Linked DNA regions of Homo sapiens. The main gene of each other region encodes a partner of the protein of the gene in region 2 in a complex. Each region holds a gene or a part of one and is shown on either strand. Other genes may lie near its edges.

The links.
Region 1: FBXL13 (region 2) and DRC10 share a complex: the UniProt entries of both Homo sapiens proteins name them as parts of the nexin-dynein regulatory complex.
Region 3: FBXL13 (region 2) and DRC3 share a complex: the UniProt entries of both Homo sapiens proteins name them as parts of the nexin-dynein regulatory complex.
Region 4: FBXL13 (region 2) and DRC8 share a complex: the UniProt entries of both Homo sapiens proteins name them as parts of the nexin-dynein regulatory complex.

What each region holds. Positions count from the first base shown.
Region 1 is NC_000012.12:113,218,093-113,225,978, reverse strand, and holds the start of DRC10 (dynein regulatory complex protein 10), read left to right. Parts: upstream 1-4,884; 5' UTR 4,885-4,982; intron 4,983-7,886. Other genes in the region: TPCN1 (two pore channel protein 1), read right to left, coding at 643-733. UniProt on the Homo sapiens protein: Component of the nexin-dynein regulatory complex (N-DRC), a key regulator of ciliary/flagellar motility which maintains the alignment and integrity of the distal axoneme and regulates microtubule sliding in motile axonemes.
Region 2 is NC_000007.14:103,071,784-103,079,198, reverse strand, and holds the start of FBXL13 (F-box and leucine-rich repeat protein 13), read left to right. Parts: upstream 1-4,402; 5' UTR 4,403-4,428; coding exon 4,429-4,503; intron 4,504-4,630; exon of another isoform or gene 4,631-4,953; intron 4,954-7,415. Other genes in the region: ARMC10 (armadillo repeat-containing protein 10), read right to left, coding at 3,204-3,422, 3,788-3,926. UniProt on the Homo sapiens protein: Substrate-recognition component of the SCF (SKP1-CUL1-F-box protein)-type E3 ubiquitin ligase complex.
Region 3 is NC_000017.11:17,975,859-17,982,880, reverse strand, and holds part of DRC3 (dynein regulatory complex subunit 3), read right to left. Parts: intron 5,326-7,022; exon of another isoform or gene 5,300-5,325; 5' UTR 5,283-5,299; coding exon 5,123-5,282; exon of another isoform or gene 4,905-5,122; intron 1,893-4,904; exon of another isoform or gene 1,650-1,892; coding exon of another isoform or gene 1,590-1,649; exon of another isoform or gene 1,221-1,589; intron 1-1,220. UniProt on the Homo sapiens protein: Component of the nexin-dynein regulatory complex (N-DRC) a key regulator of ciliary/flagellar motility which maintains the alignment and integrity of the distal axoneme and regulates microtubule sliding in motile axonemes.
Region 4 is NC_000001.11:244,972,682-244,979,703, forward strand, and holds part of DRC8 (dynein regulatory complex protein 8), read left to right. Parts: exon of another isoform or gene 1-617; coding exon of another isoform or gene 618-746; intron 747-7,022. UniProt on the Homo sapiens protein: Component of the nexin-dynein regulatory complex (N-DRC), a key regulator of ciliary/flagellar motility which maintains the alignment and integrity of the distal axoneme and regulates microtubule sliding in motile axonemes.

The DNA.
Region 1 (7,886 bases), on a different chromosome or scaffold from region 2:
TCCCAGCTACTCAGAAGGCTCACTTGAGCCCAGGAGTTCAAGGCTACAGTGAGCTATGACTGCACCACTGCACTCTGGCTTGGGCAACAGAGTGAAATCCTGTCTCTTAAAAAATAAAAGAATTAGGCCGGGCACAGTGGCTGACACCTGTAATCCCAGCACTTTGGGAGGCCGAGGCGGGCGGATCCTGAGGTCAGGAGTTTGAGAGCAGCCTGGCCAACATGGTGAAAACCCATCTCTACCAAAAATTCAAAAAATTAGCTGGGCGGGGTGGCACGTGCCGGTAATCCCAGCTACTCAAGAAGCTGAGGCAGGAGAATCGCTTGAACCCGGAAGGCAGAGGTTGCAGTGAACCGAGATAGAGCCATCCAGCCTGGGTGACAGGGCGAGACTCTGTCTCAAAAAAATAAAATAAAGATAAATAAATAAATAAAAACAGAATAAAAGCATTATTACAGTATAATAGCATTAAAATACGGAGGGAGGGAACCCTGCAAGAACAAATACTGAAAAGTTAAGGGTAATTCTGTCTGGAGAGTGACATTAGGGCCAATATGTCCTACCTCCACTTCTCTTTACATTTATTTGTAAGTTTTGTAAAGACTTCAAAGAAAAAAATAGGCTGGGCACAGTGGCTCCCACCTGTAATCTCAGCGCTTTGGGAGGTCAAGGTGGGAGAACTGCTTGAGCCTAGCAGTTCAAGACCAGCCTGGGCAATGTAGCAAGACTCCATCTCTACAAAATAAAAAATTTTAAATTAGCTGGGTATGATGGCATATGCCTGTAGGCCTAGCTGCTTGGGAGGCTGAGGTGACGGAAACACTTGATCCCAGGAGTTGGAGGTTATAGTGAGCTATGATCACACCACTGCAGTCCAGCCTGGACAACAGAGTGAGACCCTGTCTCTAAAAAATAAAGTAAAATAAAAGGCTGGGCACGGTGGCTTACAACTGTAATCCCAGCACTTTGGGAGGCAGAGACGGGTGGATCACTTGAGCTCAGGAGTTCAAGACCAGCCTGGCCAAAATGAAGAAACCCCGCCTCTATTAAAGATACAAAAATTAGCTGGGTGTGGTGGCTTGCGCCTGTAATCCCAGCTACTCTGTAGGCTGAGGCAGGAGAATCACTTGAACCCAGGAGGCAGAGGTTGCAGTGAGCCGAGATGGTGCACTGCACTGCAGCCTGGGCGACAGAGCCAGATTCCACCTCAAATAAATAAATAAATTAATTTAATTAAATTAAATGACAAAAAAATACAACCATTAAAATAATAGTTAATATGCGGCCAGGCGCGGTGGCTCATGCCTGTAATCCCAGCACTTTGGGAGGCCGAGGCGGGCGGATCACGAGGTCAGGAGATCAAGACCATCCTGGCTAACATGGTGAAACCCCGTCTCTACTAAAAATACAAAAAATTAGCCGGGCGTGGTGGCAGACGCCTGTAGTCCCAGCTGCTCAGGAGGTTGAGGCAGGAGAAAGGCGTGAACCCGGGAGGCGGAGCTTGCAGTGAGCCGAGATTGCACCACTGCACTCCAGCCTGGGCGACAGAGCGAGACTCGTCTCAAAATAGTAATAATAATAATAGTTAATACTCAATGAGTGCGTACTATGTATGAGGGACCCTACTAGCACTTCATAAGTAAAAGTTAACTGAAAATTCTTAATAGCCCCATGAGATAGGCAGGCTTATTATCCCCCCATTACAGGATGGGTGTGGTGGGTATTTCAGGCACAGACAGATTACGTATCCTGCCCAAGGACCCACAGCTAAATAAAAGCCAAGCTTTCAGCTCTACGGTGTGACTCCAAACCTGTATTCCCAGCCATTACACTATAATTCCTCAAAGTCTGGGCCATGTATTTAGGCAGCACCTAGCTTCAATCATCAATATATACTTGCTCATATATACAGATTTAAAATACATCTTTCACTTCAGCTTTACCATGCAGCCTCTCAGAACAGTTAGAAACATACTTCCAAAATGTATGATTTTTATATCATTTTTATATAGGAGTTGTTCTCTTAGATTTAGGTGTCCGAGGAAGGGGAAAAGAGTATTTTTTTTTAACTGGTGAGTATTTTTTAATACAGTAAAAGTGCTCATCCTTAACTCCCAATTTAAAACACTCAGAGCAGCCGGGAGTGGTGGCTCATGCCTGTAATCCCAACATTTTGAGAGGCCGAGGCAGGTGGATCGCTTGAGGTCAGGAGTTTGAGACCAGCCTGGCCAACATGGCGAAACCTGGTCTCTACTAAAAATACAAAAATTAGCCAGGTGTGGTGGTGCATGCCTGTAATCCCAGCTACTGGGGAGCCTGAAGCAGGAGAATCACTTGAACCCAGGAGGCAGAGGTTGCAGTGAACTGAGATCACGCCACTACACTCCAGCCTGGGCGACAGAGCGAGACTCCATCTCAAAAAATAAATAAACTAAAAATTTAAAAATAACTAAATAAGTAAAACACTCCGAGCTAGCCTGTTACAGCTCCTATTTATGCACATTCCCGTTTCCGCTGAGAAGAACCAAAAAAAAAAAAAAAAAGACTCAGCAGATCTGACTGCAGACCTTTGAACTTGCAAACAGCAGCAGGTTCCTTCCTCAAGCTGTGGGCTCTGGGCTCAACCCACTTTGCCTCCCAACTGACCTAGTCAATGGCAGCTGAGCAACTGACTTCTTCCTCGAATCATTGGAACAACTCCAAGCAAATCCTTGTGCATCCACAGGGAACAGTACAACGTTTTGAAACAAGGCAGCGAAAGTAAACATCATTCTACTTGCTGCTAAGCCCGTAGCTCTCTGCCCAGCACACTTCCTGTGAGTTTTTTTTTCTTAAGTTTCCTCCAGATCTGGGGATTTATTTTGCTTTTAAATCTCAGCAGTGGAAAGGCAGAAGAGGAAATCCCAGATGAGACACTACTATTTGGCAGTCTTAAGAATTATGGTTGTATTGTCGTTTTGGTTTAACTTTTTACCACAGATATTTTCAAACATTCTCAAAAGTGCAGAGAATATATACGTGAACTTCCTTGTATCCATTACTCAGCTTTGACAATTATCTCCCATGTTTACTTTGAAGGCAGGAGAATTTATTAACTCACAGAGAAGAGGTTTCTTAATGTTACCATTATCATAATGGCTAGTGGTTTCTATGTTTTAACTCACGGCTGTCCAACCTTTTGGCTTCCCTGGGCCACGCTGGAAGAACTATCTTGGGCCACACATAAAATACACTACCATTAATGATGAGCTAAAAAAAAAGAGGCAGGGGGGTTGTTCATGCATAATTTTCATGATATCTGCCACCATAGATTAAAGTCCTCGCATTCAAATGCTTCAACACGGTTGTTTAACTGTTTAATATATGACTGCTTGCCTGCCTGTACTGCCTTTGCCCACTGGCTTTCAACTGGGGTGATTTTTGCCCCCATGGGGACATCGGCAATGTCTGGAGACATCTTGACTGTCACAACTTGGGAGTGGGGGGATTGCTGGTGGGTGGAGTCCAGGTATGCCACTGAACTTGCTTCAATGCACAGGTGAGACCTCCCGAAACAGAATTATGTGGCTCAAAATGTCAACTGAGCTGCTGTTGAAAAATCCTATCTTAGCTAATATCCCCACTTTAGGAATGAGGAAATTGAAGCTTGGAGTGGTTAACTTGCCTTTTATAAGTTTCAACCCAGGCAGTCTGAATCAGGGACCCTGCCTGCTTAACCATTACCCTATATACACCTACGACTAGAACCAGTCCCCTGATTTGAATTCAAACACGTCATTTTTCCAGACAGACAAAAATGAGGCCCAGAGAGGGGAAGAGACTTGCCCAAGGTCACACAGTGGAGGAGTAGGGCTAGAACCCGGGACTCCTGCGTCCTGGTCCAGTGTTCCCTCCGCGGGCTTTGCTTCTGCCTCTACAGAGGACCCAACTGGCCAGCGCTGGGGAAAGGGCCTAGGGGAAGAGGTTCAGCTACCATCCCGCTGTCCGCTGGGGCAGCCTGACCCAGGCACAAGACTCCTGTGGGGTCACCTAAGGGCGCCAGGGAGAAGAGCGAGGGAGGGAGGAAGAAGGAGGCAGGACAGCTGGCTCCAGCTCCACGTGCTCCCAGCCCCTGGCTGGGAGCCCACGTGAGGGTCGCCCTAAGAAGTCGGGGGCGAGGAGAGAGGGTGCAAAGCCCCGGCCCGGGCTGGACGGAGAGAAGCGCGGTGGAGACTTCCCTGCGCCCCCTCTGGGCCCGTACGGCCCACCTCCCACACCAGAGTGCTGCGCCGCAACCCCTTACTCCGCGTCCTCTGACCCCTGATCCCTGCCCTCTCCCTCGGGCCAAGCCGTCGCATCCCTCGGATTCTTACACGCGCCGCCCCAGCAACCCGGACCGCGCGCCGGGGTCCGCACCGCGCAGCCTAGCCCGCCGGCGCCGCCGCCAAAACCCCGAGCCCGAAGCTGTTGCAGCCGCCGCAGCCGCCGAAGCCGCCGCCACTTCAGCCACTGCCACCAGGGCAGCTGCGCCAGCTCTCCTATCCACCGCCTACCGTCCTCTCAACCCCGCTGGCCCCGCCCCATTTCCCCTTCACAGCGTCCTACTGGCTAACTGGGCTACCGTGATGAACTCTGATTGGCCAACTATCACGTCCTTCCGCAGGTCTCGCCCGCCGCCGATGCGGTACTCCCTGCCCGCCTCCTTAAGAAGGGGCGGGACGAAGAATCCACGCCCCTTACTCCTCCCTTGTTCCCCGCCTTACTCGTTGAGTCCAACCCAGAGGGAGTCCCAAGTCTTTCCATTGGTGAAAGGTCAAAATGGCGGTGCTTCTGATTGGTCAGACTTCAGGAGGTGGGGACAACTGAGCGGAACAATAAATTGAATGGTGAAAAGAAAGGTCAGTCAGACACCGAGTCTCGCCTTCTGAGATTGGCGGGTAACCTAGCAACGCAGGGACCGCGGCGGTAACTGTGGCTAGGGAAACCTGGAGCGGTCAGAGCAGGTGAGTAGCCAGTTGGGAAAGGGTCGCGGATCGGGGGAGATGTGGAATAGGGTTCAGCCCTCTGTCCTTTGGCTCCCTGAGGAATTAGAAGCCCCCGCTGCGATCTCGTCTCAGCTTCAGGACCCTGTCCCTCAGCTCCTGCCTTAGTCTGGACCTTTCGCTCCACAACCTGCAGGGAGCCGGCCTCCATTCTGCCCTTCTACCTGCCCACTTCATGGCTCCACTCCCTCATCCCTAAAACGAGGAGGACAACAGTCAAGCAGAGTCATATCGTAGTTAACTTATTTCAAGTCAAACATGGGAGCTGTGGGTGGGAGGGGAGTTTATAAGTCCCCTCCCATTTCACCCAACGGCCATACGTTCCTCGGTGAGCAGGCAATCTCACTTCAGTGTTTAAATTAGGTAGTTTTGTTTGTTTGTTTTGTTGTTGTTGTTGTTGTTTTTGCCGAGCATGGTGGCTCACGCCTGTAATCCCAGCACTTTGGGAGGCCGAGGCGGGCAGATCACTTGAGGTCAGGAGTTCTAGGCCAGCCTAGCCAGTATGGTGAAACCCCATCTCTACTGAAAATACAAAAATTAGCTGAGCATGGAGGCGCACCTGTAATCCCAACTACTCGGGAGGCTAAGGCACGAGAATCACTTGAACCCGGGAGACTTAGGTTGCAGTAAGCCAAGATAGCGCCATTGCACTCCAGCCCGGGCAACAGAGCAAGACTCTGTCTCAAATAAATAAATAAATTAGGTAATTTTTATTACACCACTTTTGCCTTTATCCTAACTTTGGAATTTAACTCCCATCTCCATCCTTAAGATGTGATCTCATTGTACCTACTGAAGACAGAGAGTTTCTTGTGATGATTAAATGAGGCTAAGGGCCGGGCGCGGTGGCTCAGCCTGTAATCCCAGCACTTTGGGAGGCCGAGGCCAGCAGATCACCTGGGCCAGCAGATCACCTGAGGCCAGGAGTTTGCGACTAGCCTGGCCAACATGGTGAAACCCTGTCTCTACTAAAAATACAAAAATTAGCCGGGCCTGGTGGCGTGTGCCTGTGATCCCAGCTACTCAGGAGGCTGAGCGGGAGAATTTCTTGAACCCGGGTGGTGGAGGTTGCAGCGAGCCGAGATCGTGCCACTGCACTCCAGTCTGGGTGATAGAGCGAGACTCCAGCTCAAAAAATAAATAAATAAATAAATAAATAAATAAGGCTGAGGTGGGAGAATTGCTTGATCGCAAGAGGCGGAGGTTGCGGTGAGCCATGATTGCACTACTGCACTCCAGCCTGGGCGACAGAGCGAAAAACCCTGTCTCAAAAAAATATATAAAAAAAAAACTTTGAGGTTCAAAAGATATTTTCATAAGAAAATGAAAAGATCAGCCACAGACACAGACATGGAGGAAATATTTGCAAATCATGTGTCATAAAAGAGTTGTATATAGAATATAAAAATAACTCTTATAACTCAATAAGAGGACAACTCAATTTTTTTAATGGGCAAAAGAGTTGAGTAGACATTTAAAAATCAAAAAGACAATACCAAGTATCATCATGTAGATAAATAAACAAACTGTAGCTTTCATATGTTGCCGGTAGGTACAGCAGAATACCAATTGGTACCACCAATCTGAAATATAGTTGGCAGTTTCTTAAAAAGTTAAACATAGGCCAGGCACAGTGGCTCGTGCCTGTAATCCCAGCACTGTAGGAGGCACAGGCAGGTGGATCACCTGAGGTCAGGAGTTCGAGACCAGCCTGGCCAACATAGCAAAACCCCGTCTCTACTAAAAATACAAAAATTAGCAGGGCATGCTGGCGGGTCCCTGTAATCCCAGCCATTTGGGAGGCTGAGGCAGGAGAATCACCTGAACCCAGGAGGCGGAGGTTGCAGTGAGCCGAGATCGTGCCACTGCACTCCAGTCTATGTGACAGAGTGAGACCCTGTCTCAAAAATAAATAAATAAAACAAAAAATAAACTTACACATAACCTAGCAATTCCACTCTTAGGAAGTTACCCCTCCCAAGTGAAAACATAAGTCCACACAAAGACTTAAATATAAATGTTCTTAGCAACATCACCCTTAACAGCCCAAAACTGGAAACAACCCAAATGTCATCAACAGGTGAATAAATAAATAACTCATGATATTTCCTTAGAATGGAATACTATTCAGCAATAAAATACTATTCAGGAATGAAATACTAATAATTGCTACAACCTGGATGAACCTCAAAAACATGTTAAGTTGAGGGTTTTTGGCCCAGTGGCTCACGCCTGTAATCCCAGCAATTTGGGAGGCCAAGGCAGGAGGATCCTAGTTTGAGCCTAGGAGTTTGAGCCTAGGAGCCTGGTAACAAAGTGAGACCCTATCTCTACAAAAAATACAAAAATTAGCCAGGCATGGTGGTATGCACCTGTAGTCCCAACTATTCAGAAGGCTGAGGTGGGAGGATCACCTGAGCCTGGGGAGGTCAAGGCTACAGTAATCCATGGTTGCACTGCTGCACTCTAGCCTGCGTGACAGAGTAAGACCCTGTCTATTAAAAAAAAAAGGCAGCCGGGCACGGTGGCTCACGCCTGTAAATCCCAGCACTTTGGGAGGCCAAGGCAGGCAGATCACCTGAGGTAGGGAATTTGAGACCAGCCTGACCAACATGGAGAAACCCCGTCTCTACTAAAAATACAAAAAAAAAAAATTAGCTGCGCGTGGTGGCGCATGCCTGTAATCCCAGCTACTTGGGAGGCTGAGGCAGGAGAATCGCTTGAACCCAGGAGGCAGAGGTTGCAGTGAGCCGAGATCACGCCATGGCACTCCAGCCTGGGAAACGAGAGCAAAACTCCATCTCAAAAAAAAAAAAAAAAGGTCAGGGTTTTTCAACCTCAGCTCTATTGATGTTTTGGGTGAGA
Region 2 (7,415 bases):
CTGATAGATTTGACTTGCTAATATTTTAAGATTTTTATATCTTTATTCATAGTTGAGACAGATTTATAGTTTTTCTTACCATCCTTGTCAGGTTATGACGTTAGATTGTTGGATGAATTGGGACTGTTTCCGTCTTTTTCAATGCTCTCAAACCACGTTAGTACAAAAATTATTTTATTTTTTATTTTTTAAGACAGAGTCTTGCTCTTTTGTCCAGGCTGGAGAGCAGCGGCACAATCACAGCTTACTGCAGCCTTGACCTCCTGGGCTCAAGGGTTTCTCCCAAAACAGCCTCCTGAGTAGCTGGGACTACAAGTGCACACTACCATGCCTGGCTAATTTTTCTATTTTTTGTAGAGATGGGGTTTCACTATGTTGCCCAGCCTGGTTTTGAACTCTGGGCTCAAGCGATTCTTCCACCTCAGCCTCCCAAAGGGATTAGAGGTGTGAGTTTAAAACAAAGAAAAGATCGCCACTGCACTCCAGCCTGGGCAACAGAGCAAGACTCCGTCTCAAAAAAAAACAAAAACAAAACAAACAAAAAACAAAAGATCATCTTCTGAAATCTAAGCGTGATGATGACTTTATTAGTCCATTCTCATGCTGCTATGAAGAACTGCCCGAGACTGGGTAATTTATAAAGGAAAGAGGTTTAATTGATTCACAGTTCCACATGGCTGGGGAGGCCTCAGGAAACTTACAATCATGGTGGAAGGGGAAGCAAACACTTCCTTCTTCATAGGCAGCAGGAAAGAGAAGGAGTGCAGAGCAAAGGGGGAAGCCCCTAATAAAACCATCAGATCTCCTGAGAACTATCACGAGAAGAGCATGGAGGGGAGGGGAACTGCCCCCGTGATTCAATTACCTTCCACCGGGTCCCTCCCACGATGTAGGGATTATGGGATTACAATTCAAGATAACATTTGGGCCGGGCACAGTGGCTGATGCCTGTAATTCCAGCACTTTGGGAGGCTAAGGCAGGCACATCACCTGGCCAACATGGTGAAACCCTGTCTCTACTAAAAATACAAAAAAAATTCGCCAGGCACATGGTGTGTACCTGTCATCTCAGCTACTCCGGAGGCCGAGGCAAGAGAATCGCTTGAACCCATGAGGTGGCGGTTGCAGTGAGCTGAGATCATGCCACTGCACTCCAGCCTGGGAGACAGAGTGCGACTCCGTCTCAAAAAAAAAGAAAAAGATGAGATTTGGGTGGGGACACAAAGCCAAACCATATTGATGATGAAATGAGCATTTCTCAAGTCTTCTTCAATGATAAAGGAGTAGCTTCAGGAAGAAGGGACTGTGAGCAAATTATTTTTTAAGCTGCCTTACCTAAGATAATGATGATTATGGGAACTGTTAAGTTTAAAAGACTGTCCACATTCATCAGATTGAGTCAGTATAACTGAGAAGATATCTGAGTCCAGGACACCTTCCCAATGTACTTATACAAAAATATCTCTGACATGGGCAAAGACAACAAATTAGGCTTTGTAAATGCTATGATTTGAATGTCTCCTGCGAAACTCATGTCGAAACTTAATTCCCAATGTGGCAGTATTGAGAGGTAAGGCCTTTAAGAGGTGACTGGATCATGAGGGGTCTGTCCTCATGAATGAATTAATCCATTCATGGATTAATGAGCAGGACTGGTGGCTTTATAAGAACAAGAGACCTGAGTCAGCATGTTAACACACTTGCCCCTCTGGCCTTGGGATGCCCTATGCCACAACAAGAAAGCCCTTACCAGCTACGGCCCCTCAATCTTGGACTTCTCAGCTTCCATAACTCTAAGAAATAAATTTCTTTCCTAATAAATTACCCAGTTTCAGATATTCTATTATAAGCAACAGAAAATGGACTAATACAGTAAGGGTACATACAAATCTTTAAAAAAAAAAAGCTGAATTATACCTAGTGGCAAAAGTGAGAGAGACCTTCCCCTTCCACTCCCTTTTTCTTAAAGCATTCCCTCGTGCAAACTTGTAATTAAAAATCCTTTATTGGCCAGGTGAGGAGGCTCAATCCTGTAATTCCAGCACTTCGGGATGCTGAGGCAGGAGCACTGCTTAAGCCAAGTTCAAATCAGCCTGGGCAACATGGTGAAAACTCATCTCCTAAAAAATTGGAAAAATTAGCCAGGTGTCGGTGTGCACCTGTAGTCCTAGTTACTTAGTGGGGTGAGGTGGGAGGAGCCCAGGGAAGTGGAGGCTGCAGCTGTGATTGCGCCGCTGCAGCTGTGATTGCGCCACTGCACCGAGCCTGGGTGACAGAGGGAGTCCCTGTCTGAAAACAAAACAAAACTCCTTTTTCTGCTTCTTTGATACAAATGTAAATCTTTTTGTTTGTTTTTTGTTTTTTGAGACAGAATCTTGCTCTGTCGCACAAGCTGGAGTGCAATGGTGCAATCTTGGCACACTGCAACCTCTGCCTCCTGGGTTCAAGTGATTCTCCTGCCTCAGCCTCCTGAGTAGCTGGGATTACAGGCACCCACCGCCAAGCCCGGCTAATTTTTGTATTTTTAGTAGAGATGGGGCTTCCCCATGTTGGTCAAGCTGGTCTTGAACTCCTGACCACATGATCCGCCTGCCTTGGCCTCCCAGAGTGCTGGGATTACAGGTGTGAGCCACCACACCCAGCCTGTAAATCTTTTTAAAAGTGAAATAAGCATTTGGCCAGTTTTACAGCCCAAGAAAGACTTTCTTAAAAGCTTTGGAGCCTACTGTTCGAAAGCGTACTCTTTGAAACCTACTCTTCCAGGAAGATAGATCCCCAATCTCCCCAACTCTGTGAGTTTTTAGCCTGGGCACCTGGTTCCACATCATAAAGATATTTTTATTTTTCCTCTGGATAAAGGCAATTAGATAACAACCACCCCAATTACCAGTAAATTCAGGATAAACTACATGTAGCAAATGGTACTGTCAAGTCCTCTTACCTAAGGACAAATTATTTTTTATCTTGAGAACACGTATGTAATATGAAATCGGTTCTATCTGTCCAGCTACATTTAAAGGAATTAGAATTCTTCCTGCTATCCCATTAGCAAATTGCCCGTGATGTGTGAGGCAATTTAGTTTGTGCTTATTCAACAATGAAGCTGTTTAGCTCTCTTCTACAATTGTGGACAGGAGTTTCTTGGATGGCAGATATGATATTTTAAATTATTTCCCTAACAGCTTCCATGATGTGAAACATGCCTTTGGAGGGTTTTAATGTACCGATCAACTTTTGGACAGAAACCGAATCATGCATTTGTCCGCTGGGAGGGTGTGTCTCGCGCAGACAACTGTTCCCATTTCCAAAACACACACCAGGCTGCGAGGTCTTGGACCACTGTGACTCCCAGGTACCTCCCGTCTGAGGCCGGGCCGAGCGCCCGCACAACTGACCCTCTGACGTCCCTTCTTCCAGGGCACCTGCAAGCAGAGATTGACCTATGGCTCTGGGCCCCTCAACAGCCCTTCCACAATCGGGAGAATCCCTTTAGTTACACAAAGGCCCGGAGCAAGCTTTAAAATGAGAGGCCATCAACAGGTTTTTAAGAAATCTAATCCTCCGCTGTGACGCGGAGCTCAGGCAGGAAAGCCAGGGCAAGTTTTCATACCAGTATAGTCAGCAAAGGGGCGGCGGGGGCGGCGCAGCACCCTGCACTCACACAAGTACTGCCTCTCCCTCTAGCTCGGCTCCTCATTTTACCCCGAGCACACGCAAGCCACCACCCCGGCCTGGGGAGCCCCCCTGCCCAGTCCCCGCCCACCTGCCGGAAACCCCGGGGTCCCACCTGCGGACTTCGAAGAGCGTATCCCGAGCTCGCGGTCGCCCCGCCGCCGACCCCGGGTCAGCCTGTAAATGCAGTAGCAGGCGCCCGCGCCGAGCAGCAGGCCCGCCGCCACCCAGCCCGCGCCCCGGGGGCCACCCATGCTGCCGCCGCGGCAGAGCCGCAGCGCCGGGCCAGGGCAGGAGGCTCGCGGGGGCCAGCGCGGAGGTCTCCAGCGCACGCGGGCCTAGCCGCCACAGCAAACGCCACCTGACCTGGATGTGGAGAAAGGAAATGGGGTCTGAGCTCCGCCTCCCGGAAACGGCCTAGCTCAAAGCCTATAACCGCCCACTCCAGCCCGGCGCGTCCCGGCGGCTTCTCCCAGGCGAGGCGGGGCGGTGCGGGGCGCTGCACACCGGGAGGGGGGGGTCGGACGGTGCGCCCCACGCGGAGACGCCGGGGCCCGCAACCCAGAGCCGAGCTTCCCGTCTCTTCCCCCGGGGCGTGAAGCAACCATTCCTCCCTCCCGCCCCTGGCAGCGGAGCGCGGGGCGGTGCCACGCCCAGCCCCGCCCCCTGGTTGCCGGGACAACGCCCGCACGCGCCCGGCCCCTAGTCCCAGCGCGGGGAGGGTACTATCGCAGCTTCTCCGTCAGGCCTTGGGCCATGGCCTCGCTACGCAATGCCAACCCGAGGCTGAAGAACTACTTCAAGGAGAACTACATTCCTCAGGTCTGCGAGGTACTGGACACGCGTGGCAGCGGACACAGACCGTCGGTGGGGAGTTAGAAGGGGGAGGAGTCAGGAAAGACTTCCCGGAGGAGGGACTAGGTTTCGGGATTGGGGAGGAGTGGAGGGAAGGCGGGGCAGAATGCGAGAAAGTGAAGTCAAATTCGGACTTGTAGGCGATCAGGGCTGAAGACGCTGATTAGAGAGAAAACAGAGGGTGATGGTGGCTGCACGTGGGGAATGGGTGACATCTCCCAGGGGGAATGAGCACAAGGCCCAGATCGGAAACCCCAAACTCAGATTTTAAGGTTTGGACAAGAAGTACCTGAGGAGTGGAGGAGTGAGAAAGAAGTGCCAGAGAGCCTGAGGAGGAAAATCAGCAGACTGGCATTATGAAGAATGTTGTCAGAAGTAGGGAGTAGGCACTAGTCACCTAAGATAAGGAGCTGGATTCTGCCCAAGGTGAGCCTGAGGTTTCCATGGAGCCGTGAGGGCAGAAAATAGATGGAGGTTAGCGGAGGGAAGAGTGGAAGCTGAGACCTTTGGTCAGTGTAGTCAGCCCTTTGTGAAGGTAAGGACCCTCTCAACCAGGATTGCCTTTAGACAACAGGAAGGACTGCCCTCCTACTGCCGTTATAAGAGTAGGGAAGGAAGACAGGAAGGGGATAGACATTAGGTTTTGTAGGTTTGGGGGTAGGAAGCTGAGAACATTTGCCTTTGTTGACCTCTTTTTTTCTCTACAAATAGTTGGTGAGATATTTACCAAGAATGTGCGTGTTTGAGTGGGGATGGGGATGTTGGTGCAGTAGGAGGTTCGAGCAAAGATACGTTATGTGGAGAATGAGGGAGAGAGATGTCTAGGGAAAGAAAGAGGAGGTCCTACCTGAGGGTAGTAACGCTCCTAGGCGGTTGGGAGGGCAATTTGGTAGAGACCCCCCACCCGTCTCTTTTTTGGATGGTAATTGAGAAATATTTATTAAGATGTTAAATACATGTACCCTTTAACCAAGCATTTCTACTTCTAGGGATCTACTTTAGAGAAATACTTGCACATGTGTTCAGGAGGATGTACAAGGATATTCATTATAACTTTGTTTCATAGTAAAAATAGTAAATGACCTAGAGTGACTAAGCGAATGAGGCATTATGTAGAATAAAGTATATCTGTACCTACTAAGAAGAAATGTCCTCCAAGACATATTATTATTATCATCATTATTATTGAGACACGGGGTGTTGGTCTGCCACCCAGGCTAGGGTGTAGTGGCTCCATCCTAGCTCACTGCAGCCTCAAACTCCTGGGCTCAATTGATCCTCCCACCTCATCCTCCCAAGTAGCTAGGACTACAGGCATACACCACATGGCTGGCTCCCAACACATATTATTAAGTAAAAAAGAAAAAGTGCAAGTTGCTTAGCAACTGTCCATTCTGCTCTAGCTGTCCATTTGATTTCATATATGTTGTATATGTGTTTATGTACATATATGTGTATATATCTAGCTTTAAGACAATAGTGCATGCATAGAACCTATGCCAAACTGTTAATAACAGATGTCTTGTGGAATGGTTTTGGGGGAAAAGATGGAGAATTCTAACTTTTTACTCTGTCCATAGCTGTATTGTTTTAATTTATTACAGTGAGTTTTGTGTTGTACCTCTATACAATTGTGCTTGAAAATATGTAGGGAGAATGGTACCCATCTTCCCGGTTGTGTGATTTTCTCAAGTAGCAGTCAGTAAATCAGATGTAGGTACAGAGATAACCAAGTTGACTTCGTCTGGGATAGGAATTTGCCAGGCATATATTAATAGAATGGAAAGGCAGTAGGTTAGGGAGCTAAGCTCCTGAGTATCTGAAGTGATGGGCCAAGGACTCTAAGGACTCAGTGGGAAATGAGAAAAGGATATCATACTGATACATGGACAGAAAGTGAAGACTCCTCTAAGAGGTGAGTGAAGAGAAGTAGAGGGAGTAATTAAGTGAGGGAGCTGGAAACACAGGAGGTGGGGGTCAGAAAGTGGAACGTTTATATTTACAATTCAGGGTGCAGCCATTCTGAGTGATGGCTCAGTCTGTGATATGGCGGTGGAGCAGGTGGCAGAAATGGACTTGAGTTGAGAGTCAGGGTACATCAAGGAAGGGATGGCCTCTTCTCATCTAGGCCGCCAGTTACTATAACATCACAAAGCTGCAATGAGGCAGTCCCCAGTTCCCCCTCTGGGTGAAAGCATTCCTTCCTTACCAGCTTACTGCATTGTTCTGCACCCATAGAGGAGGCCCTTATATGCATTCTCCATTGTCTAAGATCATGTTCTCCTGAGGAGTCCTTCACTCACCTCTGCTAGCACACTAGCAGGAAGTGCAAAGGAGCAATCCTCTGGGCCCCACACACCCACCTTAAACTCATTACCCATTTCTTCTAAGAGAATATCAAGATGAATTCCATTCTGCCTCATATCCTGTCTGTACATTTATTTATCTGACTCAATTTCCCAGATGGGTTTTATACTTTTTTTTTTTTTGAGACAGAGTCTAGCTCTGTCGCCCAGTCTAGAGTGCAGTGGTGCCATCTCAGCTCACTGCAACATCCGCCTCCTGGGTTCAAGCGATTCTCCTGCCTCAGCCTCCCAAATAGCTGGGACTACAGGCACCTGCCACCATGCTCAGCTAATTTTTGTATTTTTAGTCGAGACAGGGTTTCACCATGTTGGTCAGGCCGGTCTCGAACTCCTAACCTCAGGTGATCCACCCGCCTCAGCCTCCCAAAGTGCTGAGATTACAGGCATGACCCACCACAGCATGACCCACCATGTCTGGCAGGTTTTATACTTTTCTAAAACCCATCTTCTGCAAGCCTTGGAATACATAAATAACCTTTCATTAAAGTTTTCCCTGTATATTTAACCTCTTCTGAATTTCAT
Region 3 (7,022 bases), on a different chromosome or scaffold from region 2:
TCATTAAGGATGGGCGCAGTGGCTCACGCCTGTAATCACAGCACTTTGGGAGGCCGAGGCGGGCGGATCACAAGTTCAAGAGATCGAGACCATCCTGGCCAATGTGGTGAAACCCTGTCTCTGCTAAAGATACAAAAAATTGGCTGGGCGTGGTGGTGCACGTCTGTAGTCCCAGCTACTTGGGAGGCTGAGGCAGGAGAATCGCTTGAACCAGGGAGGCAGAGGTTGCAGTGAGCCAAGATCGCGCCACTGCAATCCAGGTGACAGAGCGAGACTCCATCTCAAAAAAAAAAAAAAAAAGAATATGCTCATTAAAAGAACTGAAATAATACAGAAGTGAAAGAAGTTTTCAAAATTGGTGCTGTGGGCCAGGCGTGGTGGCTCACGCCTGTAATCCCAGCACTTTGGGAGGCCAAGGTAGGCAGATCAGGAGGTGAGGAGGTGGAGACCATCCTGGCTAACACAGTGAAACCCTGTCTCTCCTAAAAACACAAAAAATTAGCTGGGCGTGGTGGCGGGCACCTGTAGTCCCAGCTACTCGGGAGGCTGAGGCAGGAGAATGGCGTGAACCCAGGAGGCGGAGCTTTCAGTGAGCCGAGATTGCGCCACTGAACTCCAGCCTGGGCGACAGAGCGAGACTCCATCTCAAAAAAAAAAAAAAAGAGATGGAGACCATCCTGGCCAACATGGTGAAACCCTGTCTCTACTAAAAATACAAAAATTAGTTGGGCGTGGTGACACGCGCTTGTAATCCCAGCTACTCTGGAGGCTGAGGCAGGAGAATCGCTTGAACCCAGGAGGCAGAGGTTGCAGTGAGCCTAGATTACGCCACTGAACTCCAGCCTGGATGACAGAGTGAGACTGTTTAAAAAAAAAAAAAAATTTGGTCCTGTGGCTGGGCATGGTGGCACACACCTGTAATCCCAGCACTTTGGGAGGCCAAGGCCGGTGGATTGCTTGAGACCAGGAGTTTGAGACCAGCCTGGCCAACATGGAAAAACACTGTCTCTATAATAAAAATACAAAAATTAGCTGGTGTCCCTGTAGTCCCAGCTACTCAGGAGGCTGAGGCAGCAGAATCACTTGAACCCAGGAGGCAGAGATGCAGTGAGCCAAGATCATGCCACTGCACTGCAGCCTGGGTGACAAAGCAAGACTCTGTCTCTAAATAAATAAATAAATAAAAAAAAATAAAAATCGGTGCTGAGGCATTGTGCCTCAGAGGAGCCTGAGCCAGCCAGTCTGCTGCATCCCTGCCACGTCCCCCACTGTGTCCCCTGCCAGGACCGACTGACCTGAGCCGGGCTGCCATGGACCACACGCCCCTGCTGTGGGAGTGGCTGCCCACCTACAACCTAGGGGCCGGCCAGGGCAACTATGCATGCAGCTTGCATGGCTACAGCGTCATCCCTGCTGCCCATCCCTTGCTGCTGCCCGCCCTCCCCTTACCTCATCACAGGGATACCCAACCACCACCCCAGGGTCTACAATGACCACAGCTGGACTATCACTTGGTACCCTGCCAATGCCATCGCCATCATGAGAGGCTGTCCCGTCTGCAGGGATAGGGTGCTGGAGGACTGCTTCACCTTCCTGGGAATCCTCCTGGCCATCATCCTGTTCCCCTTTGGGTTCATCTGCTGTTTTTCCTGGAGGAAGCAAAGATGCCCCAACTGCAGAGCAGCCTTTGCTTAAAGGGAACTTACACCTGGCTTTTCTACACCCAGCTCTCTTTTTCTAATGTACAATAGTTTTATTTGATTAAGCTTCAGGACTGTTTTGTAAAGTGAGGTGCGACAGATGTGGCACGCGGGAGCCAGGGTTTCCTGGAGCGTGGAGAGGCAGCGCTGCTGCTCCTGAGGTTAATGAGAACTCAGTAAAGCACTGCTTTTATTTTTTGCAGTCTTCAATTTGAGAAAGGTGAAATATAATGTTTTCAATAAATGAGATTCATGCCAAAAAAATAAAAAATACAAATACAAATTAGTGGCTAGGTGCGGTGGCTCACACGTGTAATCCCAGCACTTTGGGAGGCCGAGGTGGGCAGATCACGAGGTCAAGAGATCGAGACCATCTTGGCCAACATGGTGAAACCCCGTCTCTACTAAAAATACAGAAATTCACTGGGTGTGGTGGTGTACACCTGTAGTCCCAGCTACTCTGGAGGCTGAGGCAAGAGAATCACTTGAACCCGGGAGGTGAAGGTTGCAGTGAGCCTAGATCGTGCCACTGCACTCTAGCCTGGCGACAGAGTGAGACTCCATCTCAAAAAAAAAAAAAAAAAAATGCTGGGCGCAGTGGCTCATACCTATAATCCTAGCACTTTGGGAGCCTGAGGCAGGCAGATTGCCTGAGCTCAGGAGTTCGAAACCAGCCTGGGCAACATGGTGAAACCCCATCTCTACTAAAATAAAAAAAATTAGCCAGGCGTGGCCGCATATGCCTGTAGTTCCAGCTACTTGGGAGGCTGAGGCAGGAGAATTGCTTGAACTCAGGAGGCAGAGGTTGCAGTGAGCTGAGATCGCACTACTGCACTCTAGCACTCCAGCCTGGGCTGGGCGGCAGAGCGAGACTCCGTCTCTACAAAAAAAAAAACAACAACAATAAAACAAAACAAACAAACAAACAAAAAAAAAACATACAGTCCAGCTGCCGTTTCAATATTCATTCAGAGGGGCAGAGCCTGCCTGTGAGGTTGTGAAAGTCCCAGTGGGAAAGTGGGGAACCCCTCCTAGCTCCCCTCCCTGCACAAAGTTCTGGGGAGGACAGGGTTCTCTGACCCAGGTCCAGAGGGGCACACCGCCCTTCCCCTAGAGCTGGATTGCTGCCCTGCACCTCTCCTGGGTTCCCAGGGCTGGGTGGGACTGCCCTTCCCTTAGAGCTGGATTGCTGCCTTGCACCTATCCTGGGTTCCCAGGGCTGGGTGGGACTGCCCTTCCCCTAGAGCCGGATTGCTGCGTAGTGCCTCTCCTGGGTTCCCAGGGCTGGGTGGGACTGGTGCCTGTTCTTCAGCTCCCTGTTTGTGGCCAGATTTCCCAGAATGATACTGGCCACAATTCCCACCTGTGCTTCCAGGGTGGGGCCAGTTCTGCCCCAGCCTCCCGGCCACCTCCCAACCCTGGGTTGGATTTTCCAGGTGCCTTTTCTGGCCCTGATCTGACAGCCCCCCAGCAGTAGCACTCCCCCTGTGGCTCCTGCACACCGGGTGCTCTGCCACACACGCCAGCATGCCGGCTTTTTCCCAGGTGTCAGCAGTTCAGGAGGAAAAGCCAAAACAACACAACAAATCAGGATGTACTTGGCAGTTAGCTCTAAATGAGTTACCAGCATGACAGGACTGCCAAAAAAAGCCGATTTAATCTTCAACAAAGACACTAAATCTGCCCCTGTGGCCACCACCTCGGCCAGGCCTGTGGTCATCACTCACTGGAGTACAGCAGTGGCCATCTTACTAGATCCTTGCCTCGGCCCCTGGCCTCCACGGTCTATCCTCACGCAGCCAGCAGGGTCCTGTGAAATCCTAAGTCCCATCCTGTCCCACTTCTGCTCAGGACCCTCCCGGGGTCCCCACTTCACTCACTGTAAGAGCCAAACACCTTCCACTGTCTCCAAGCTGACACCATGACCTCCCCGACCTGTCTCTCCACAGTGGCTTCCTCAGCAGAGATGATAAGGCGGGGTCCAGCCTGCCCCAGGCCCTTTGCACTGGCTGCTCCACTTTCCCTGGTGGATCTGCACAGCAGCTCTCTCCCTTGCCTACCTCAAGTTGTTGCTAAATTGTTACCTTCTTGGTGAAGCCCCTGGCCACTCTATAAAACACTGTACTCCACCCCCAACTTCCCTTTTCTCCTCTCCTTCCTTTTTTCCTCCACACCACATATTACGTTTAGCAAATAGTATTATTTTCCTTCTTCATTTTATTTAATTGTCCCCCATCAAGTTGAATGTCAGCTCCATGAGGACAAGGCTTTTGTCTTTTTTTGCTCATAGTTGAATCCCTAGTGCTCAGAACAGTACCTGGCATGTAACAGGCAGGTGTTCAATACTGGCTGCATGAACCTCAGGTTGGGGAGGGGAAACAGAGGGCAAGCGGTCAGCTGCAAAAGCCCCCTCCTGCCGCACCTGTTCTGTGCCCCTTTACCCCTCCCGGGGCTGTGGCTCAGGGCCCTCCCTGATTGGGTGGTCAGCCCTGGGAGCCTATGGGCTTCGTGGGGCTGTGCCTGGGCCATGCCTGACTTGCCCACTGTCGTGTCCCTGGCTCTGGCAGCAGGGCTGGACTGAGGCAGGGTCTCAATACCTCCTTGTTGTTGACTGGATGCCGGCCAGCCTAGGGGCCCCAAGACAGAGCACGAATGTGAATCAGACCAGGTCACTCTGCTGTGGCCTTGCCTGCACATGATACAAAGGGGGGTCTCAGGATCCCTGCCCACCTCTCTCACTGCCCTCGTACTGCCTCTGCCTTCACTTACTGTGCCTGGCTTGCTGTGTGAGCCAGGCACTGTGCACGTGCTGTCTCACCTTGTCCCCCCACCCAATGCTCGAGACAGGGATGACAGCCATCCCATTCCACAGACGGGACATTGAAGCAGTGAGGGTCCGCCTGGTCCTGAGCCACATCTTCTCACTCCTGATGTGCCTCCCTGCCTCAAGGGCCTGTGCTCCTCCTGCTACCAGCCTGTCTTTGGTCACCCCTTCCCTGAAGCTGCCATCCCAGTGCCCGCTCTCATTCTCCCACACTTCCTACCCTCTGCTTCTGGCTACGTGGGACTTCCTAGGCTCTGCCTGCCAGGGACCCCCACTCCAAGGACACCCATGTGGAGTTGTGTGATGGAAACAGCATAGTCTTGGGGGCTCACTTAGATTTGGCGTGGGACAATTTTATCTTGTTTTCTATTCTTATTCAGAATCCGGAGCGTCGTGGATATTCAAATGATGAAGACACTAAGTATGACGCTTTACAAACATCTGTGCTGCTCCTATGCCTTGTAACCCAGGTAGGCCCTAATGCTGATGTGGGAACCTCGACCGTGGACTTTGCATGGAATCCTGGGGCTTGAAGATGGAGCAGAGAAAGCCAGGGAGGGCCCACCCTGGCCACCACCCCTGAACCTTGGATACATACTCCGAAAGTCCAGCTGCAGGGACAGGACATCCTTGAAGAGGATGCCCTCCTGCTTGGCCAGCTGCCCGGCCTCCTCCTGGGGGCCCTGGTCCCCGACGGCCAGCTTGAGCATGTCATCGTCCATCACCCTCGGCTCCATCGAGTTGCACGGCTGGTTCATCTTCCCCCACGTTTTCCCTAAAAAACACCGCATTCTTCCTTCACGGCCTGCTTCTTTCTCTGTTTGAGGGCAGGGTCTGGCTGAGGTTTCCCCCTGTAGTGTCTTGTGGCCACTGGCACTCTGAGGAATGCCCCACGCCCAGCCCTGGGTCTGCTGCATCTCGGGGTTTGTATACTTACGCCAAGGCTGCTCCAGGGCTTCCTGGCAACCACCTGGGCCTGTCCACAGGGTTTCATCCCTTGACCCTACAGCCACAGCTGGGACCCTCGCTGGACCCACTGGACTGGTGTCCACACTGGTCTCCCTAGCCTGTGATCTTGACTCATCTTATGACTGTGGCCCTGTGTCAGGCCTCTGACTTTGTATGCCCATCCTCACTTGGGCTTGTGGGTACCAACCACTGACTGTGCTCCCTGGGCAGCCCCAGCCAGGCCTGTCAGCCTGCAGCTCCTCTTCCTTGAGCACCTCACCCCCTCCAGGCCGTCATGTGTGTATGCCCCACACCACACCACAAGCTTCTCCTGGTGCAGAGGGAGCCCCTGACCCAAGCTGCCCATTCACGTCCTCCCCGTGGGAGATGTGAAGTTGAGGCTGTGGAATGAGAGTGCCCATCGGAGCTGGCTGCTTGAGCTGGGGAGGAATAGGGAGTGTGGGCTGGCTGGGTACATAGTTAAGCAGAGAGCAAGAGGGGGAGGAGGCAGATGCACAGAGAAAAGCAGAGATGGGAACCTGGGAATCAGAAAACAAAAGACAAAGGACAGACAGATCGACACAGACAGAGGCTGCCTCCTTCTTGCTGGCTTTCCAGTCCCTAATGTCCCTAGGTCCAGGCCTCATGAGAGTTTCCTGTTTCTCACATGAAATCCTCTTCTACTTAAGCTAGCTCCAGTAGGTTATTTTTTAATTTAATTAATTTATTTTTTTTGAGACAGAGTCTCGCTCTGTCGCCCAGGCTGGGGCACAATGGCGCGGTCTCAGCTCACTGCAACGCCCGGATTCAAGCGATTCTCCTGCCTCAGCCTCCTGAGTAACTAGGATTTCAGGTGTCCACCACTACGCCTGGCTAATTTTTTGTATTTTTAGTAGAAACGGGGTTTCACCATGTTGGCCAGGCTGGTCTCAAACTCCTGACCTCAGGTGATCCACCTGCCTCCGCTTCCCAAAGTGCTGGGATTACAGGCATGAGCCACCGTGCCCAGCCTCCAGTAGATTCTGTTGCTAATGGTCCAGAGGGATTTGACTGAGACACCACAGCACAGGGGGGATCTGTAGATTTGGTCAGTCACAATGTGAGGCTGACTCCAGGCTGCCGTTCGTGGCTGGACCACATTCTCATCCTTATCAACCCTCTTGGTGAGGACATCCAGGAGGGATATTTTCCCCCACTTTCCACCCCTGATTCTTGCCTCCCTGCTGGCCCTACTTCCTATCTTTGTCTACATGCCTTCCCAGCATCTGGGCCTCCCTGAACCTCCTGTCCTTCTGCCCTGCTGGTCCCTGATGCTAGGCAGCCCCTGTGCTCTGTTTTTCATTCCACTGGGCACTGCTGGAGAAACTCCTGGTGCAGGGCTGATGGTGTCTGCTGAAAAGCCAGGTTGGGCCATACAATCCTGTTACCTGGTCTTAGAGACTTCCCTCTAAGACTGCCCTCCTCTTGCCTCCCTGACCATCCACTTGGATGCAGCTTCTGCAAATATGCATCCTCTGCCCTGAACTGTCCCTCATCAAATGTCCCAATGA
Region 4 (7,022 bases), on a different chromosome or scaffold from region 2:
GTGGCACGCCCTGTAGTCCCAGCTACTCAGGAGGCTGAGACAGGAGAATTGCTTGAACCGGGGAGGCGGAGGCTGCAGTGAGCCAAGATCACACCACTGCACTCCAGCCTGGCGACAGAGTAAGACTCCGTCTCAAAAAAAAAAAAAAACAAAAACAAAAAACAAAGTTCGAGAAGCACTCATGTGCTGTATCTCATTTATTGTTAACAGTTTTATGGATTAACTAATTGCAGTTTGTGAAGGGTATTATGAAATAAAGGCATTTTGTTAGAGGATAAACTAAGTAGAGACTCATTTTGGTGGTAAGATCTTTTTATGGAAATAGTCTATTACTATATTTGATTGTCAGCTACTGTATTTTGAATTTTCAGAAATTACGTCTAACCAATTAATCAGAATTGATTAAGTTTTGAGGATTCACTCAACTAAACTCATAAAAGACTGATGTGCAAACCTGAATGATTTATTAATTTAAATAAGGGTATATACATTGACTTGAAGGCTGATTTTGCCAATATACTAATATAATAATTTTGGCAATATACTAATATAATAATATACTGTTTTATGGGTACTAAGCTTCGGGTAGTGTGAATTTGTATTTCAGAAGTCATTTGATGACCGTGGAATCACACAAAAGAAAGGATAATTTTGAAGGATGTGTTCAGTACCCTCTAAGTTCCAAAAGATCTGGGACCATTTCTGATCTGTTAATACTGAGTGTTGTGCAGAGTGCTTGGAACGTGGTAGGTAATCAATAAATATTTGTTGAATTCAGAACATTTGAATTAATCAAAGACAGCTTATGAGATTTTAACCAAAGCATTCCTAGCTATTTTCCCCAAACTTATTCTATACCTAAAAGTACACAAAACTCGTTTTAGGTCTCTTTTCCCCTCTGCTTTACCGGTAAGATACATTCTTCTATTCCATCTGGCTCAACAAAACGTTTTATTTCACAGTGCCACGGTATTCACTAGCATGTCTTTAAAAAACAACTACAAAAAACCTCATTGTAGAAATACACATATGTTTTAAATAGTTCATCCTTAATATTGAGATTTCTAAAAGTTCTAAAGGGGGAATAAGTTTCAGGGTACCTATCCTATCCACTCTTCTTCAATATTTAGAGATTAACTTTGATAGAAGTATTGAGAATATTGATAAGAAAAATTACCTAAATTAGAAGGGGCTATTGTGCTCATAAAATTTTTTTCTAAGATTATGTACGTTGAAGTTGTTATACTTATTTGTAGCATTTTTTGCTTTCATACAGTATAATTTATTTTTTCATAGATTAAAAATTATACAGAATTATATTAGCTAAAAGTTTAACCTTTAGAACCAAATTATTTTTAAAACCACTTTTTTAACTGAAAGAAGAATGTTTGAAACGGGATGAGAAAAAATATTTTTGAAGGTTTATTATTTTTCCAAAGTTTCCTCAGCCAGAACATTTTTTGTTTTGTTCTTTCTTTTCCTTCTGTTTTGTCTGTTTAAATGGAGAGTCAATGCAATTGTTGATTCTTTGGCTCCTTAAATCTTATTGTTTCTGTCTCTTAGAGAATTTTATATAGGACTGGAAGGATCTTCTGTTTGTAATTAGACTCACGTCTAGGAAACAAACTGCTTAGTTATAAAATTTGAACTTTTGGCAGCCAGTGAGCTTTGGAAAGTAAGAACTTTTTAGTAAGCTGCAGATATTAAAAGCTCACTCTAGGATTTACTATTTTTGTTTCTATTAAAATATTCTTTGTTACTTTGCGTGCTTTGATAACATTGCTTGATAAAGTGCCTCTAATTCAATTATCACCTCCTAAATGGAAGAGGTTTTACAAGGTTTGTTGTTTTGTTTCTGATTTCCTTCATTGTGCCACTCTTTTGAAAACCCAACATTTGGAAATATAAAGTAAAAAACAGAAATTTCAGGTGCCTATTACTTTATAAAAAGGGTTCCCTTAAATAACGTCTTTGTTTTTTTTTTCTTCTTTTATTTTGAGACAGGGTCTTGCTCTGCTGCCCAGGCTGGAATGTGGTGGTGCAACCTCTGTTGCCTAAGCTGGAATGTAGTGGTGCCATCACGGCTCACTACAGCCTCGACCTCCTGGGCTCAAGCGATTCCCCCGACCTCAGCCTCCCAAGTAGCTGGGACTACAGGCGCAAGCCACCATGCCCGACTAATTTTTTTAATTTGTAGAGACAGGGTTTCACTGTGTTGGCTACGCTGGTCTCAAACTCTTTATTTTTTTTATTTTTATTTTTTTTTTGAGATGGAGTCTCGCTCTGTCGCCCAGGCTGGAGTGCAGTGGCACGATCTTGGCTCACTGCAAGCTCTGCCTCCCAGGTTCACACCATTCTCCTGCCTCAGCCTCCCGAGTAGCTGGGACTACAGGTGCCTGCCACCACGCCCGGCTAATTTTTTGTATTTTTAGTAGTGATGGGGTTTCACCGTATTAGCCAGGATGGTCTCGATCTCCTGACCTTGTGATCCGCCCACCTCGGCCTCCCAAAGTGCTGGGATTACAGGCGTGAGCCACCACGCCTGGCTCGAACTCTTGAGCTCAAGTGATCTGCCTGCCTTGGCCTCCCAAAGTGCTGAGATTACAGGCATGAGCCACCCTGCCTGGCCTCATAGTAACTGTCGATAGTATAGAGTGTAGCCTGTGGGACAGTACAAAGGTTGAGCTTTGAAGTAAGACTTGAATTTGAATTCCGTCTTCCCCAAGCTCTAATTATCTGATCTTAGCCGAGATGCTAAACATAAGTAGCTTCAAGTTCCTCAGATGTAAAGTGGGGATAATTATACCCCCAATATTTCATAATGTTGTAATGGGGACAATGTTTTCTTATTCATTTTTACATCCCCAGCACCTGCCACAGTGCCTGGCATCAAAGGAATGCTGAGGCCGGCTCACGCCTGTAATCCTAGCACTTTGAGAGGCCCAGGCAGGTGGATCACTTGAGGTCAGGAGTTCAAAACCAGCCTGGCCAACATGGTGAAACCCTGTCTCTACTAAAAATACAAAAAATTAGCTGAGTGTGGTGGCGCGTGCCTGTAATCCCAACTACTCAGGAGGCTGAGGCAGGAGAATCGCTTGAACCCAGGAGGTGGAGGTTGCAGTGAGCTGAGATCACACTACTGCACTCCAGCCTGAGTAACAGGGTGAGACTCTGTCTCAAAATAAATAAATAAATAAATAAAAAATACAATAAAGGAATGCTGAATAAATGGGAAAGAAAGTGTTTGGTACGTATCTAGTGAATTAGTAAGTATTAGTATCTGCTTAACATAAAACATAAGAGTTGGCCAGGCGTGGTGGCTCCTGCTTGTAATTCCAGCACTTTGGGAGGCCGAGGTGGGGAGATCACCTGAGGTCAGGAGTTCGAGACCAGCCTGACCAACATGGTGAAACGCTCTCTCTACGAAAAATACAAAAATTAGTTGGGTGTGGTGGTGGTTGCCTGTTATCCCAGCTACTCTAGAGGTTGAGGCAGGAGAATTGCTTGAACCTGGGGGATGGAGGTTGCAGTGAGCCTAGATCGCAGCATTGCACTCCAGCCCAGGCAACAGAGCAAGACTCCATCTCAAAACAAAAAAACAAATAAAACATAAGAGTTAAGAAAACTTTTAAGTCTTACCAATTGGGATCATGCATAATGCATTCCTGCATATTTCTGGGGTAATTTAATAAGTTTTCTTCCTGTTTTAGACCAATATAAATATCCGGTTAAGACTAAGCAAACAAGAAGACTAGCTTTTTGAAGCCTAATTTGTTTCCTCTTATTCAGAATAAAAAAAAATTTGAAGAAAAACTGGACTGAAATTTGTTTTTGCTCTGATATATAAAATTTACAGAAATGTCTCAAGAATAGTCATAATTTTAAAGATCAAATGGACAGTGAGATACTACCTCACGCCTGTTAGGAAGGCTATTATCACCAGAAGTCCCCCAAATAATAAGTATTGGTGAGGATGTGGAGAAACTGGAACCCTCGTGGACTGTTGGTGGCAATGAGAAATGGTGCAGCTACTATGGAAAGTGGTATGGCGGTTCCTCAGAAAGTTAAAAGTTGAGTTACCATGTGACCCAGCAGTTCCACGTGTGGGTATATATCCACAGTAATTGAAAGCAAGGCCTCGAAGAGATATTTGCACAACCATGTTCATAGCACATTGTTCACAGTAGGTAAAAGGTGGAAGCAAGCCAAGTGTCCATCAGCGGATGAATGAACAAACCAAATGTGGTATATACGTGTAGTGAAATATTATTCAGCCTTCAAAGGAGGAAATTCTGACACATGCTACCGCTTGAATGAACCTGAAAGACATCATGCTAAGTGAAATAAGCCAGTCAAAAAGACAAATACTCTGTGATTCCACTTACATGAGGTACCTAGAGAAGTCAAATTCATGGAGACAGAAAGTAGATTGCTGGTTGCCAGGGGCTGTGGGGAGAGGAGAATGGGAAGTTGTTTAAGGAGTGTAGAGTTCCAGTTCTGCAAGATGAAGGAAGTTCTGGAGATTGGTTGCCCAGCAGTGTGAAGGTACTTAACACTATTGAACTATATGGTTAAAAGTGGTTAATACAGTAAGTTTTACATTATGTGTATTTTACCACATTTTAGTAAATAGAAAATGTTGAGTACATTCAGAATGAAAGAAATGGTACATTGTTTTTCAAAGGCAATTTGGAAATTTGTATTGAAGAATAAATGATGATGGCTAGGCAAGGTGGCTCACATCTGTAAACTCAGCACTTTGGGAGGCTGAGGTAGGAGGATTACTTGAGACCAGGAGTTCGAGACCAGCCTGGGCAACATGCTGAGACCTCATCTTTGCTAAAAATAAAATAAATAATAATAAAGAAGTCGGGGGTTCCCTCTGTTGGCTTTGGAGCCCCCATCCCTCTGTCTCTGTACAGGGAAGCTTCTTCCTTCTCCTTTCTTGCTCCTTCTTGCCTGTTAAACTCTCTATTTCTTAAAACCAAAAAAATAAAAAATAATAATAAAAAGTGATGTCCACATGCTTTGAGCTTTAATATACTTCTGGATATTTATCCTTAGAAATATATTCTGAAAAGAATAAAAAATGCTCTAAGCACAAAAATGATCAACATAAAGTTATCTATAAATTTGAAAATATAGATAACATTTGCATGTCCAACTAATGGGGCATACAAAATAAATGGTTGTATGTCCACTTGTTGGGTTGCAGCCAAATATATAAAAATTATATGTGTAAATGGGTAAGGACACGTGGGGGAGCCCAGGAGATGATGATGATAGCAGGGTGATTAGACTTTTAGGGGCACTTATTTTTAAAATCTCATTTTAATGTCAGTTCTACAAAACTTTAAAAACCCACTTAAATATGCTAATTAAAAATTATTCTTACCCACTTGTGAAAGTGTGTTTACCAGATCCTGTACTTGACAATCCTTTGTAAACCTCTAGTATGGATTTTATAGATATTAAGACTGTAAAAAAGTAATTTTAGTTTTTATTTTTATTTTTTAAGAGATGAGATCTAGGCCGGGCGCAGTGGCTCACGCCTGTAATCTCAGCACTTTGGGAGGCTGAGGCTGGCGGATCGCCTGAGGTTGGAAATTCAAGACCAGCCTGGCCAACACGGGAAAACCCCGTCTCTATTAAAAATACAAAATTAGCTGGGCATGGTGGCGCATGCCTGTTATCCCAGCTACTCGGGAGGCTGAGGTAGGAGAATCACTTGAACCCGGGAGGCGGAGGTTGTGATGAGCTGAGAGCACCATTTTACTCCAGCCTAGGCAACAAGAGCGGAACTCCGTCTCAAAAAAAAAAAAAAAAGAGACGAGGTCTCACTCTGTCACCCTGGCTGGGGTGCAGTGGCTTGATCACAGCTCACTGTAGCCTCTACTTTCTGGGCTCAAGTGATCTTCCCACTTTGGCCTCCCAAGTAGCTGGGACTGCAGGGGCGTGCCACTGTGCCCAACTAACATTTTTATTTTTGGTAGAGATAAGATCTTGCTCTGTTGCCCAGGCTAGTCTCAAACTCCTGGCCTCAGGCAATCCTACCACCTTGGCCTCCCAAAGTGCTGGGATTACAGGCTTGAGCCACCACCTCTGGCCCATAATTTTATTTTTTTAAATGCACTAGTAAAATTGGGAGTTTAAAAACCTGGACTAGAATTTGGACATTGCCTTTTTTTTTATTCTTTTTAAGATTTTGCTTGTTAGTGTCAATTTATCTGACCTTTGGTTTGAAGAATTTCCATCTAAAGAGGAAGATAGGCAGCTAAGGAGACAATGATACAATAATGTGATAAGTGCTATGATAGTTGCACATGTATGATGATTGGGTGCCTGGGGAGAGTCACCTGATTCACACACACCCTCTTTAAATTATAGCCCCTTTTTATTCCCTCTCATAGCTATTTGTTTTTTTCCTCTTTCATACTATATTTTGTAATTGCCTGTAGATGTGTTGTTTGATGTCTGCTTCTCCTAGACTCTTAACTTCCAAAAGGATAGGGGTCATGCTCATGCATATACCCAGAGCATGGCATATAGCTCAGTATTTGCTGAATGTTGAATCAAAGTTGGCTTTCTGAAGGAGATAACCGAAGCTTATCTTTTTTTTTTTTTTTTTTTTTTTTTTTTTTGAGACGTAGTCTTGCTCTTGTCGCCCAGGTTGGAATGCAGTGGCGTGATCTCGGCTCACTGCAACCTCTGCCTCCTGGGTTCAAGCGATTCTTATGTCTCAGCCTCCCAAGTAGCTGGGATTACAGACATGTGCCACCATGCTGGGCTCATTTTTTTATATTTTTAGTAGACGGGGTTTCACCATACTGGCCAGTCTGGTCTCGAACTCCTGACCTCAAATGATCCGCCTGCCTTGGCCTCCCAAAGTACTAGGATTACAGGTGTGAGCCACTGCGCCTGGCCTAATTTTTGTATTTTTAGTAGAGACGGGGTTTCACCATGTTGGCCAGGCTGGTCTGGAACTCCTGACCTCATGTGATCCGCCCACCTTGGCCTCCCAA